Homo sapiens: one gene and its partners. The protein of the gene in region 4 purifies or fractionates together with the protein of the main gene of each other region. This does not show direct contact. Each region holds a gene or a part of one and is shown on either strand. Other genes may lie near its edges.

The links. The genes of interacting proteins can lie anywhere in the genome.
Region 1: the proteins of CSNK1A1 (region 4) and HMMR purify together in Homo sapiens (affinity purification with mass spectrometry; 8 studies listed by BioGRID and IntAct, with this or other methods). This does not show direct contact.
Region 2: the proteins of CSNK1A1 (region 4) and AXIN1 purify together in Homo sapiens (co-immunoprecipitation; 4 studies listed by BioGRID and IntAct, with this or other methods). This does not show direct contact.
Region 3: the proteins of CSNK1A1 (region 4) and USP34 purify together in Homo sapiens (affinity purification with mass spectrometry; 5 studies listed by BioGRID and IntAct, with this or other methods). This does not show direct contact.

What each region holds. Positions count from the first base shown.
Region 1 is NC_000005.10:163,467,132-163,470,631, reverse strand, and holds part of HMMR (hyaluronan mediated motility receptor), read right to left. Parts: intron 2,932-3,500; coding exon 2,884-2,931; intron 992-2,883; coding exon 803-991; intron 1-802. UniProt on the Homo sapiens protein: Receptor for hyaluronic acid (HA). Involved in cell motility. When hyaluronan binds to HMMR, the phosphorylation of a number of proteins, including PTK2/FAK1 occurs.
Region 2 is NC_000016.10:342,724-346,223, reverse strand, and holds part of AXIN1 (axin-1), read left to right. Parts: coding exon 1-76; intron 77-3,500. UniProt on the Homo sapiens protein: Component of the beta-catenin destruction complex required for regulating CTNNB1 levels through phosphorylation and ubiquitination, and modulating Wnt-signaling.
Region 3 is NC_000002.12:61,461,088-61,464,587, reverse strand, and holds part of USP34 (ubiquitin carboxyl-terminal hydrolase 34), read left to right. Parts: intron 1-3,500. UniProt on the Homo sapiens protein: Ubiquitin hydrolase that can remove conjugated ubiquitin from AXIN1 and AXIN2, thereby acting as a regulator of Wnt signaling pathway.
Region 4 is NC_000005.10:149,492,482-149,495,960, reverse strand, and holds the end of CSNK1A1 (casein kinase I isoform alpha), read left to right. Parts: 3' UTR 1-2,979; downstream 2,980-3,479.

The sequences.
Region 1 (3,500 bases), about 14 Mb from region 4:
CTCTGTCACCCAGGCTGGAGTGCCGTGTTGCTCACTGCAACTTCCACCTCCCGAGTTCAAGCTATTCTCATGCCTCAGCCTCCCGAGTTCAAGCTATTCTCATGCCTCAGCCTCCTGAGTAGCTGGAATTACGGGTGTACGCCACCATACCTGACTAATTTTTGTATTTTTAGTAAAGATGGGGTTTCGCCATGTTAGGCTAGGCTAGTCTCAAAATCCTGACCTCAAGTGATCCATCCGTCTCAGCTTCCCAAAGCGCTGGAATTACAGGTGTGAGCCACTGTGGCTGGCCTGTTGGTTCATTTTTGAAAGGTTGTTTGGGTGGTCACTTACCTCTATATGCTGGAAAGTCCATTGCAAGACTCTAAAGCAAGTCCCTGAGAAAGGATTTCTTGAAACATGTTTGCTTAACAAAATGAATCTGAATCGCCTGGTGTATGTTGTTTTGTTTTGTTTTGTTTTTTGAGATGGAGTCGCACTCTCTTGCCTAGGCTGAAGTGCAATGGCGCCATGTCAGCTCACTGCAACCTCCACCTCCTGGGTTCAAGTGATTCTTCTGCCTCAGCCTCCCGAGTAGCTGAGATTACAGGCGCCCGCCAATAGGCCTAGCTAATTTTTGTATTTTTAGTAGAGACAGGGTTTCTCCATGTTGGTCAGGCTGGTCTCGAACTCCCGACCTCAGGTGATCCGCCTGCCTTGGCCTCCCAAAATGCTGGGAACACAGGCGTGAGCCACCGTGCCCGGCCCTAAAAAACGTGTTTATATTTATTCAATTGTAAATATTATCATGAGGCTCAGATACCTTAGATTTTAGTAGTTCATTAGTCCTGGTCAATTCAATAAGTTGTTTTTCCAGTGTAGCATTATTTGCAGAGAGAGATGTTTTTTCCCTTAGTGCAGCATTTAGCCTTGCTTCCATCTTTTCCAACTCAGTTTCCAGATCCTGGATCCGCCTGTCCTGGGCACCACGTTCCTGTAGAAGAACACGAATCTGGACAAAAACAAGGTGATAATAAATGATTCACTGATAGAATGCCAACATAAGGAGATGCTACCAATAATCACCCCTAAAGTTTCTGGAAAAATCTCTGATTTTGACATTATGCTTGTAGATATTCTAATGTTACTAGCTATTTGAATAATCATATTTACCTATGATACATCTTAAAAGTCTTAATGCATTTTAAGAACATAAGAACTTTAGTTGCCATAAGTTCCAAGTACAATTAAGCTATCTATTCACTTTTTTTTTTTTTTTTTTGAGATGGAGTCTTGCTCTGTGCTCTGTTGCCCAGGCTGGAGTGCAGTGGCACGATCTCGGCTCACTGCAAGCTCCGCCTCCTGGGTTCAAGCGATTCTCCTGCCTCAGCCTCCCGAATAGCTGGGACTACCAGCACGGGCCACCACACCCGGCTAATTTTTTGTATTTTTAATAGAGACGGGGTTTCACCATATTAGCCAGGATGGTCTCGATCTCCTGACCTCGTGATCCACCCGCCTCAGCCTCCCAAAGTGCTAGGATTACAGGTGTAAGCCACCACACCCGGCCGCTATTTATTCACTTTTAAGGTATTTCCACCTATAATAGTTATTTTCTCTAGCTTCAATTACACAAATTCAAATTAGCTTAAAATGCTAAATGTTTTTTATTTCAAGAAGGCAGAGCTGGGCTTCTGAGGAGAATGTACTAGGCATTGGCAAGCCATCATTCTTGCTGCTATTACCAGATTAAAAAAACAAAAAACAAAAAAAAACCCAAACCAATATTTGTCAACAGAAAATGTGGAAGCCAAAAGACAATGAAATGATATTTTTAATATAATGGGGGGGAACCTGCCACCCTAAAATTCTATACCCAATGAAGTCACTGGTGTAAATTATTAGTTCTAATCCTGGCTCTACCACTCACTTACCAGCTATCTCACTGAGACTCAGTGATTATTCCTGTAAGTATCAACCCCTACATGTACCCTCAGTAAAATGATAGCTAACATTATTAGAATACATAAAAAAGAATCAGAGCAACTGAGCAGACATTTACAGTTACTCTGACATACTCTTGGTTGAAAGCCAACATTCGACTGTAATCAAATGAAAGATTTTAATATATTGAAAGAATATATCCATGAGGAAAAGAGTTGGTCAGCAATGGAAACAGAAAAAAAAGACTGCAGAGAAGCAAAGTTCACAGTGAGCTGCTTAGCATTGCTAGGAAAGTAAATGGGTTCTTTAGGTTAGTACTGTTCAATAGAAATTTCTGTCATGGTGGAAATGCCCTGTCCAGTATGGTAGCTGCCAATCACATGTGGCTACTGAGCACTTGAAATGTGATTATTGCAACTGAGGAATTGAGTTCTTATTTAATTTAGATCATCACATGTGGTGAGTAGCTACCATATCAAACAGCACAGCTCTATGTTATTTCACCCATGAGGAAGGCCTATACCTATTGTGCAGAGCAATGCATCGAGTTAGCCTAACTTCATCACAGTCTAACCAGCTAGGATTGCATGCTCACTAAGAAATCCTCTAGCTATGTTGTGTTAACATAAGTTAGCATACAGGAAGACTGTGAACGATGGATAGATATAAATATTTGATCCACATATATAATTGTAATCAACTGACATAATGATTTTTCAGTTATCAGTTTTTCATTAAGTGGGCTATCTTTAATCTCGGCGTTGCCAGCATACCACATTAACATAGCCCGGATAGATCTGTGAAATACTGTAAGAACTGTTTTCCTGTAGGCACTGTTCTGGATGGCATGTTTGCCTCACTGCAGGACTCCTCACACTGCAACAGAATCCTTATCTCTTAAATCTGTGTAACTCTCTTTCTATCATGTGTACTTTTCACTAAGTTTAAAGCACTGCTTACCTCTTTCTCTAATATCTTCAAATCTTTATCATTCTTTTGAGATTCCTTCTGTTTAAAAGCCAAAAAAACTTATAAGCAAATTTAGATGTCACAGATATGACAGCCAAATTTGTTTTTCAGTTATCAGAAAAGATGAAGGGATCCAATCAGTTAGTTTCTATTTTAAACATTACACTGTTAAACATTGTGTAGGCCACTCATCTGATAAATAAAATATTCTAAAAATCTCAAGACATTTTAGGTTTAGAAATTTTCAACCCAATAAATCAGGATTTTCCTAATCAGCCCAGTGAAAAGAACAGGTGGAACTTTATGAATAAAGCTACTGACTGCCTCCCTCTAATGTTAAATAGCAACACATCTTGAATATTTAATTATGCTATCTCAGAAAGAATCTTACAAAGAGAAATCGACTTAAACTTTGATACCCGAAGAGGAAAATATACAGATGCAAAGAAATAAAAACTGAAACAGCATAAGCTCTGATTCTAATTTTCTCATTGGCTTTATTCTAAATAAGACATATAATTTTCACACTATATCTTTTTATATCCAACAGACTTTCTGACACAATGGCTAGAAAAAGAATATCTTTTCCATCTAAAAATGGAAGAAAG
Region 2 (3,500 bases), on a different chromosome or scaffold from region 4:
CTCAGAAGCTGCTCCTGGAGACAGCTGCCCCGAGGGTCTCCTCCAGTAGACGGTACAGCGAAGGCAGAGAGTTCAGGTGAGTCCGACGCCAGGCGTCCACTTTCTGTACTCACCTCCGAGAGCTGGAGAACAAGCCAGGGAAAGGTGCTGATGAGGCGGGCGTTAACCCACACCGGATGTCCTGCTGCCGCTGGGGTTGAATTTTGGTTCTGTTCTTATTTGTGATACTTTTGCATTTGTCATTACTTTTTTATATTTGTAATGTTGAGAACACTTTTACTGAGAACAGACTAAAATATATGACTTTATGAGTCATTAGGAACATCGGAATTCTTAGAAGTCACAATGACATGTAAACTTTACCCTTCAGCAGTAAAGTCTGTCACCTCTTAAATAGGAGCTGGATCTACCCAGTAGACATGGTCCTTTCCGCTTAATAAAGGGAGGAGTGGACGTTTCAGGGCATCGATAAGAATTGGAGAATTGGATTCTTGCTTTTTTTTTTTTTTGAGACGGAGTTTCACTTTTGTTGCTCAGGCTGGAGTGCAATGGTACAATCTCAGCTCACTGCAACCTTCGCCTCCCGGGTTTGAGCGATTCTCCTGCCTCAGCCTCCTGAGTAGCTGGGATTACAGGCATGTGCCACCACGCCCGGCTAATTTTGCATTATTAGTAGAGGTGGGGTTTCTCCATGTTGGCCAGGCTGGTCTCGAACTCCCGACCTCAGGTGATCTGCCTGCCTCGGCCTCCCAAAGTGTTGGGATTACAGGCGTGAGCCGCCGCATCCGGCCAGATTATTGCTTTTATAATGATCTTCTAAGCTTCTTCCTACAGGCTGAGAAATAGCAGGGGGGACGTTTTACGTGTGGGGAATGGTCAGAGTACTTTGAAAACTTCCTGTGGCTATAGTGGGCATTCCAGGATTGGGCCTTTTTTCCTGCCAACAAAATCTGTTGGTGCTGTTGTGTAGTCCACAGCAGCCTGGACCCTGAGGCGATCCTGGCAGGGCCTGTGGGGTGCGTGTGTTGCCTGGGAGGGAGCAGAGTGGTGCTCAGCCTTGGAACCTGTTTCTTCGTTCTTCCTTCCCTGTGATCCCTGCGTGGTTCCTGGAGGTTTATTTGGCTTTCGGGCTGGCATCTACTGTGCTTGTGAGCAGAGCGCATGCATTTCCCACTCTTTCCCTAGAGCTGGTGACCGGAGGCTCCGGCCTGTGTAACTTTGAAAGCCTGGAATTCATGTGACCCCTGCTGACCTAATCAAGACTCCGAAAGCACAGCCCCATGTGCTGGGACTCTCCTGAGGAGTTATTAAAAACTCGCATTAGTTCTTCAAGCTTACTGTGACACAGAAATTGGCTACTCGCTCATCAACACAGGATTAAACATGTCTAAGGTTAAACTTGTAGTCTAAGTGATACGATTTAAGATGGACTGTCGACTGGGCGCAGTGACTCACACCTGTAATCCCAGCACTTTGGGAGGCCGAGGCGGGCGAATCACCTGAGGTCGGGAGTTCGAGACCATCCTGGCCAACGTGGTGAATCCTCATTTCTACTAAAAATACAAAAATTAGATAGGCGAGTTGGCGCATGCCTGTAATCCCAGCTCCTCGGGAGGCTGAAGCAGGAGAATCGCTTGAACCTGGGAGGCAGAGGTTGCAGTGAGCCTTGGTTGTGCCATTGCACTCCAGCCTGGGCGACAAGAGGACAAGAGTGAAACTCTGTCTCAGAAAAAAAACAAAAAAAAAACAAAAAAGGATTGTGTAGGTTAATTGGTTAATTTTTTTTTTTTTTTTGAGATGGAGTCTTGCTCTATCGCCCAGGCTGGAGTGCGGTGGCGCCATCTCGGCTCACTGCAAGCTCCGCCTCCCAGGTTCACGCCGTTCTCCTGCCCCAGCCTCCCAAGTAGCTGGGACTACAGGCGCCCGCCACCATGCCGGCCAATTTTTTGTATTTTTAGTAGAGACTGGGTTTCACCATGTTAGCCAGGATGGTCTCGATCTCCTGACCTCGTGATCGCCTGCCTCAGTCTCCCAAAGTGCGGGGATTACAGACGTGGGCCACCACGCCCGGCCTTTTTTCCCTTTTGTTCATTGTCTTTAGCCAAGTGGTATTTATTTAGCAAGCATTTTAGGACACAATATGCCGCAAAGTTATCCTGTTGAGTAAGCCTGGTATAAACTGAGAGTTTCTTTCTTTCTTTCTTTTTTTTTTTTTTGAAATGGAGTCTCGCTCTGTCACACAGGCTGGAGTGCAGTAGCACTATCTCGCTATCTCGGCTCACTGCAACTTCTGCCTCCTGGGTTTAAGTGATTCTCCTGCCTCCCGAGTAGCTGGGATTACAGGTGTGTGCTACCATGCCTGGCTAATTTTTGTATTTGTGGTAGAGACAGCGTTTCGCCACGTTGGCCAGGATGGTCTCGAGCTCCTGGACTCCAGTGATCTCAGCCTCCCAAAGTGCTGGGATTACGGGTGGGAGCCACTGCACCTGGCTGGTTATTTTTTTTGCTTGTTTTTTTGTTTGAGATGGAGTCTCGCTCTGTCGCCCAGGCTGGAGTGCAGTAGTGCAATCTCAGCTCACTGCAACCTCTGCCTCCTGGGTTCAAGTGAGTCTCCTGCCTCAGCCTCCCGAGTAGCTGGGATTACAAGTGTGAGCTACCATGCCCAGCTAATTTTCTGTATTTTTAGTAGAGATGGGGTTTTACCACGTTGGCCAGTCTGGTCTCGAACTCCTTTCCTCAAGAGATCTGCCCGCCTCAGCCTCCCAAAGTGCTGGGATTCCAGGTGTGAGCCACTGCGCCCGGCCCCGGCTGGTTATTTTTAAGATGGGACTGAAGTTGAGGGCTGGGCTGCAGGAGGAAAATGAGCTCCGTTCTGATTTCCACTGTTGGAACCCCAGTGCCTCCCTCCCAGCCACTCTTCAGTTCTTGGCTGCGAGCAGTAGCTTTGCTGTCTGTCCTTGGTTTGCTGTATTTGTAATAAGGAACCTTTGCTATGAAATTAGTGGGATACATTGGCTTCTCCTGTCTAATTTTGTGTAGCTCTGTCTACACAGTTTGGGTCCTAACTTGACTGCTCTGGGGCTGCTGGTGGCAGAGGACCCTGGGGCTTGGGAGTCGTGTCTGCGGTTGAATCCTCTCTGTGGGAGGTGGCCTGTGGTGCAGCCTTGTGGCTTGAAGATCTCTGATGTTGGAATGGTTGCTTGTCAGCACAGACAGGGCATGAAGTCCAGGCTGCGTTCCTCACATTTAGACCATTCTCTTTGTCCTGCCAGGTGTAGGTGAGGGTGCACTAGGTTGGAAGTCGTGGAAACCCACCCACCTGAGCCCAACCCTGAAGGGCACTGTTGAGGCAGAGCCTCAGGTGTGCCTTAGGGCCTGGCACCTTTGCTTTGTGCCATTCTGACTTTGCCTGCCTGGTGGGCGACTTCGTGGGCTTTGTGTTGGAGGTGGCTGCTGCAGTGACCTTGGGCTCTGGGCTCCCTTGTTTACAGATGCTTCCC
Region 3 (3,500 bases), on a different chromosome or scaffold from region 4:
TATGTGTTGTAGATTTTACTCTGTGTATTCGTTTGGTGGGTTATAGTTTACCAAGTTGTCCAAAATGGATAATTCATGTGAGATAGGCAAGAGCAAGTGTTGTATCCCAATACCATTTGGTGAAAAAGTTGAACTTCAGAAAGGATAAGTAGTTTGCCAAGATCACCTGTCAACCTGCATAGTCAAATTTGAGATGGAACTCAGCTACTCCAATATCTGTATTTGCAGAATAATTCTGTTGTGTTTATTTTGTTGGTGGTGGTGTTTTTGAGACGGAGTCTCACTCTGTTGCCCAGGCTGCAGTGCAATGGCACGATCTCAGCTCACTGCAACTTCCACCTCCTTGCTTCAAGTGATTCTCCTGCCTCATCCTCCTGAGTAGCTGGAATTAGAGGCGCCTGCCACCACGCCCAGCTAATGTTTGTATTTTTAGTCGAGACTAATTTTCACCAGTTTGGCCACACTGGTCTTGAACTAATGATGTCAGGTGATCCACCTGCCTCGGCCTTTCAGTGTGTTTTATTTTTAAAGCAGATTACTTTATTGAATAGTTTGTGTTGGGTACTTAAGTACTTTACATGCTTTGCATGCTGCTGATTTAATCAGTTCTTTGAGGGAGGTACTCTGTCATCCTTTTCAGATGAGGGAACTAAGGTTTAGAGAATTTATGTGACTTGCTTAGGGTCACATGTGACTGTTTGGTGGAACCACAGGACTTAATCCCAGATTAGGCTAAGAGTTTTTTTTTTTTTTGAAAAGGAATTTTGTTCCTGTTGCCCAGGCTGGTGTGCAATGGCATGATCTCGGCTCATTGCAACCTCCGCCTCCTGGGTTCAAGCGATTCTCCTGCCTCAGCCTCCTGAGTAGCTGGGATTACAGGCATGCACCACCATGCCTGGCTAATTTTTGTAATTTTAGTCGATGTGGGGTTTCACCATGTTGGCCAGGATGGTCTTGAATTCCTGACCCCAGGTAATCCGCCTCCCTTGGCCTCCCAAAGTGTTGGGTTTAGGGGTGTGAGCCATCCTGCCTGGCCTAAAAGTTCTTACTAGTTAACATTGTATAAATTTTATGATGATCTATCTGAATCACCACTGTTCAGTTGGCAAAGTGAAAATTACTGACCGTGTTTTATGTATCTTCAAAAATTCAGACAAATTTCTGTGATAATTGTAGTAGGAATTCAAAAGTGGTAATAAGTATAGCTGAATAAGAATCTTTTTCATTGAATAAAATTTCAAATTTTTTGATTTTTGATTATTTTTTAAGAGACAGTGTATCACCCATGCTGGGGTGCAGTGGCCCAATTATAGCTCACTGCAGCCTCAAGCTCCTGGGCTCAAGTGATGCTCCTGCCTCAGCCTCCCAAAGTGTTGGGGTATGCTGTACCCGGCTGAGAATCTTTCTTAATACTGTTATTCTGCAGTGAACCGTTTAATAAAACTACATGTTTCCAGAGCTTTTTAGATACTATGAGTATATAGGTACGAAATCAATTAGTAACATAACTTTTTCAGTAGACATTTAATCTAAAGTTGGAATTTTTTTCCCCCCTTTGGAGATGGAGTCTTATTCTGTCATCCAGGCTGGAGTGCAATGAAGTGATTATTGCTTACTATAACTTGACCTCCTGGGCTCAAGTGATTTTCCTGTCTCACCCTCCTGAGTAGCAGGGACTATAGGTGTGTATACCAGCACACCTGGCTGCCTTTTTTTTTTTTTTTTTGGGAAACAGTTTCCCTCTGTCTCCCAGGCTGGAGTGCATTGGTACAGTCTCGGCTCACTGCACCCTCTGCCTTGGGGGGCTCAAGCAGTTCTTGTGCCTCACCCTCCCAAGTAGCTGGGATTATAGGCATGTGCCATCATGCCGGGCTAATTTTTGTATATTTAGTAGAGATGGGGTTTCGCCATGTTGGTCAGGCTGGTCTCAAACTCCTGGCCTCAAGTGATCCGCTTGCCTCAGCCTCCCAGAGTGCTGGGATTACAGGGTGTGAGCTACTTTGTCCGGTTCTCCTGAATTGATTTTTTTTTTTTTTTTGGAGACGGAGTCTTACTCTGTGGCCCAGGCTGGAGTGCAGTGGCATGATCTTGGCTCACTTCAACCTCCTCTTCCTGGGTTCAAGCAATTCTCCTGCCTCAGCTTCCCAAGTAGCTGGGATTACAGGTGCGTACCACCATGCCCAGCTAATATTTGTGTTTTTTGTAGGAATGGGGCTTCACTGTTTTGCCCAGGCTGTTCTCAAACTCCTAGCCTCAAGTGATTCACCCACCTCGGCCTCCCAAACTGCTGGGATTACAGGCATGAGCCACCACGCCTGGCTGATTTTCTTTTTTTTTTTTTTCCCCCTGAGATGGAGTCTTGTTCTGTTGCCCCAGGCTGGAGTGCGATGGCCTGATCTTGGCTCACTGCAACCTCCGCCTCCCGGGTTCAAGCGATTTTCCTGCCTCAACCTCCTGGGTAGCTGTGATTACAGGCAACTGCCACCATGCCTGACTAATTTTTGTTACGTTTAGTAGAGATGAGGTTTCACCATGTTGGCCAGGCTGGTCTTGAACTCCTGACCTCATGATCTGCCCACCTCGGCCCCCTAAAATGCTGTGACTACAGGTGTGAGCCACCGCGTCTGGCTGAAAACATGTTTTTGTATAAGATTTCATTTTATATAAAATTTAATATATCTGTTTCCAGTTCTCCCATATTATGAATAATGCCGCAAATGTACATCTTTCTACTTAAATCTTTTATCTACATCCCTGGTTCTTTTAGATTTCTAGACGTGAGTTTACTGTGTCAAAAAATATAAACATTTTTCATTATTTTCATACTGTTTGCTTGCCAGAAAGGATATATTGATCTTTTAGTCGTAGTCGTGCCTGTGTAAGGGCACTTTCACCTGTCTTGAATATTATCCTTTAGAAAGTGTTATTTTAGCAGGGCATGGTGATGTGTGCCTGTAGTATTCCCAGCTACTCAGGAGGCTGAGGTGGGAGGATCACTTGAGCCCTGGAATTCAAGGCTAGCCTGGGCAACATAGCAAGACTTCATCTCTTAAAATAAAAGTTATTTTGGTAGAGAATGTATTAAGCAATTACTAGTAAATTTAACCATTCATATTTTTGTTATTTAATGAATTGTATGTTTTTTTTTCTGTATTTCAGATTTCAGTGTTTTGGGTTTTTTTTTTTATTTTTTTGAGGCGGAATTTCGCTCTTGTTCACTAGGGTGGAGTGCAATGGTGCCATCTCGGCTCACTGCAACCTCTGCCTCCCAGGTTCAAGTGATTCTCCTGCCTCAGACTCCCGAGTAGCTGGGATTACAGGGGCCTGCCACCATGCCTGGCTAATTCTTTTGCATTTTTAGTAGAGACAGGGTTTCATCCTGTTGGCCAGGCTGGTCTTGAACTCCTGAGCTCAAGTCATCCACCTGCCTCAGCCTCCCAAAATGCTGAGATTACAGTTGTGAGCCACCCTGCCCGGCCCCTCTTACCTTCTTTCAAAAT
Region 4 (3,479 bases):
ACAAAAAATGCCTTGCTGACTCACTATTAAATAAAAATCTCCCCAATTTTTTGATAGACTACTTCAAGCCATTTGTTACATGGTATTCCTTTGCAAGTCAATTTAGGTTTCGTGTTATAACTTTTCCTCTTTTTTTAAGAAAAATGAAAAAAGTAATTCTTTTGTCTGAAGGGGAAAGGCATTCTTTCATTTTTTTCTTTTTTTTTTTTTTTTTTTATGACTTGCAGGCACAATATCTAGTACTGCAACTGCCAGAACTTGGTATTGTAGCTGCTGCCCGCTGACTAGCAGCTGGACTGATTTTGAATAAAAATGAAAGCATTAAAGGGTTTCCCTACAAAACATTTTTCTTTAAAATACTTTTGAAATGGCTATAAGCAGTTGACTTTCACCCTTGGAGAGCATCACACTGTGTGAGGTTCAGTGATTGTTGACCCTCCCCAGCCCCTCCTGCTTCTTTAAGTTATCTGTGTGCGTGCGCTTCCTCTCAATCTTCTTTGCACGCTCATTTCTTTTTCTCTGACCCATGAGAAAGGAAAACTTACTGATGATAATTTTTAAATAGTGTAATTTATTCATTTATAGCATGTCAGGATAAATTAAAAGAACATTTGTCTGGAAATGCTGCCGGGAGCCTATTGTGTAAATGTAGGTATTTTGTAAAATAACCTTGAAATTGTAAATTGACACGTGTTTGGTCAGATTGTGTCAAGTTTAATTTGTTTTGTTTTCTTTTTTCTTTTTTTTATTTGAAAACTACTTTAGCAATAATTAATTCCATGATTATCACATTCTGCCATTAAGGGATATTAGTACCGTAATACTGAAGAAATTTTATTAAGTCTGAACTTCTGGGGTAGGCAGCTTCTTTGTTTCTTTTCTATCCACCCTTGTCGGTTGAGGTATTTGTTTCTTGACTAATAAACCCTTTGATACTTTTAGCCAGAAATCAGTCTCATAAAGCTATTTTTGAGTATAGTTTGTGTAAAATAAAAATGTTTAGCTTTGGTAATAACTTCCAAGCTGAACTCCCTCTAGCAAGATATTTTTCAGTGCTTTTATTTACTATGCACTTAGACTATGCACTTTTTCTGAAATATTTTTGTAACACTTTTTTGTATTTTTGCCATTTGAAAAGGTTGTGGTGTAGTTGGTCTGTAATTAAGTTGCAGATTTAAAACTGCTGTTAGCTTTGTAAATCAAAATATAGGTGTTTTTTGTCCTGGTATATCGTCATTCCATCTGCAGCTGGAGCTGGAATCCCATTGATCTTCTAGCTACCATTCATTTTCTTCACTGTTCACAAAAGAAGAGTGTGAAATTCAGTGAATGCTGTTACTAATCCTGTTACGAGATGAATCTCATTTCACCAAAATTAAATTATGTTTTTCCGCTAAAATGATGATACAAGTTGAAGACACATCACTCTGAAATTGGAAGACCTCACCACTTAAGGCTCCACAGTGGCTTACTCAGCTGAACTCTAGGTTACTACTCTTTACTTTGTTCACCCATTGGGGGGTGCAGTTTTTTTAAAATGTTGGGAGATGGCCATTCTAACTACTGTTGAATGTCTCTGTTTTGGGAAGGTATAACAAGAAATAAAAAAGAATATATATGAAGGGAGAGACTGGTTATCTCCTCCCATATGGTTGTGCTTATCCTCTTATGGCTTACAAATGAATATTTGGAGGTTTGCTTTCACAATGATTTCCCATCAACAAATATTTTTAGTAGGATTTTTCCTGTTTCTGTTAGTCCTTGCAGTACTCATAAATGTTTTAAGCTGAGCATACTGTAATAGTCATAAGTTTAATTTCATTATAATAAAAATAATCAAACAAAAGGACTTTAGAACCCAAGACAATGAGCTAGTTTTCCCTAAAGTTTGCTGAACTATTAAGGAATATGTTCTTATAGCTTTTGACTAGAATGAGTCATGGGAATTCTAAGAAGGGATGGCCTAGACATTTTTAGCTCAGTTAAATTCAGCATTTAATGCAGGTGAGTTCCTGGGTCGTTTTCCAACTAGTCTGGAACAGTCTGGTTCTGACTCAAACTGGTATAAAGCATTATTTTAGGTTTTCTCTTTGCCAGTTTTTAAGCAGTTATAACCATGTAAATCAAGATGTGAGGACATCTATATGAAGTATAGTAAAGAAGTGGTGTCAGCAGATCAATATGTGTGTCCTGGGTGTGCTGCTCTCTTAAGTGAGACTTTGTGAGACTATACTTTAAATGCATTATTACCATTGCTTACATTTTGGGGGATTTTCTTCCTCCTCAAAACTTCCATTTCTATTGTAATATTCTTAATGACAATCTTTTTTTTTTTTTAGCAGTGTATGTTTGAAACAGCCAAAGATGGCGATGAACCAAGTGTAAATTGATCTAAGCAGCCCATGCAGTTTGTGTTGAATCAACAAACAGTGTATTGTTGAAGTGAAATTATTTTCTGAAATGACTTGTTAGACCAGTTTTGAGGACATACTCAAAAGTAGAGTAATAATGGCTCCTGGGATGGAGAAATATGAGATGAACCTGGAACATTCTATTATGGTGCCACAAAGGAAATCTAAAAAAAAAAAAAAAAAAAAAAGTGGTTGGCTAGGAGCAGTGGCACACGCCTGTGATTCCAGCACTTTGGGAGGCCGAAGTGGGCAGGAGTTCAAGACCAGCCTGGCCAACATAGTGAAACCCTGTCTCTACTAAAAATACAAAAATTAGCCGGGTGTGGTGGCGGGCGCCTGTAATCCCAGCTTTTCAAGAGGCTGAGGCAGAAGAATCGCTTGAACCCGGGAGATGGAGGTTGCAGTGAGCTGAGATCGTGCCACTGCACTCCAGCCTGGGCGTTGCAGTGAGACTCCGTCTCAACAACAACAAAAAGGTGGATACATGTCAAAAGGGCACAGGAGCCACTTGAAGGATTATACTTGCTAAATCTGTGTCAATTATCAAAATAAACTGGTAGCAACGTTACAACTCACTGAATAAGATACCATGATTCCATGTTGACTTAAAAATGGAGAGAAGAGAAAGCTCTAACTTGAATGTCAGCTAATTTAAGGTGAAAGGATTTTATGTGTTAGAAAAATCACCATTTTGCAAACTAGTTTTCAGAATCCTTAATATATGTCATCTCTTTTATTCCTCATAACAGTAATAAGAAACAGTTAACTGTTTCAGAAAAGAGTGGGGCTGCCCAAGGCAAGGCATGTTGGTAATTGGTAAGCTTTATAGAGCCAAGACCTCAACCTGATTTTCTTGCTTTCATGCAGTTAAGCCATGGTGCTCCTCTTGTTATATCACCCTTTTAAACCCAGAGATTGATAGTATTAGCCATCATTTGCTGAGTGTCATGCACTATTCTAAGTGCTTTACATGTATTTGCCTAATCAGCGCCCTGTGAAGTACATCCTGTCTCCATTTTGCATATAAGGATACCAAAGCACAGAGTTGGAGGGAAGATAGTTATATTC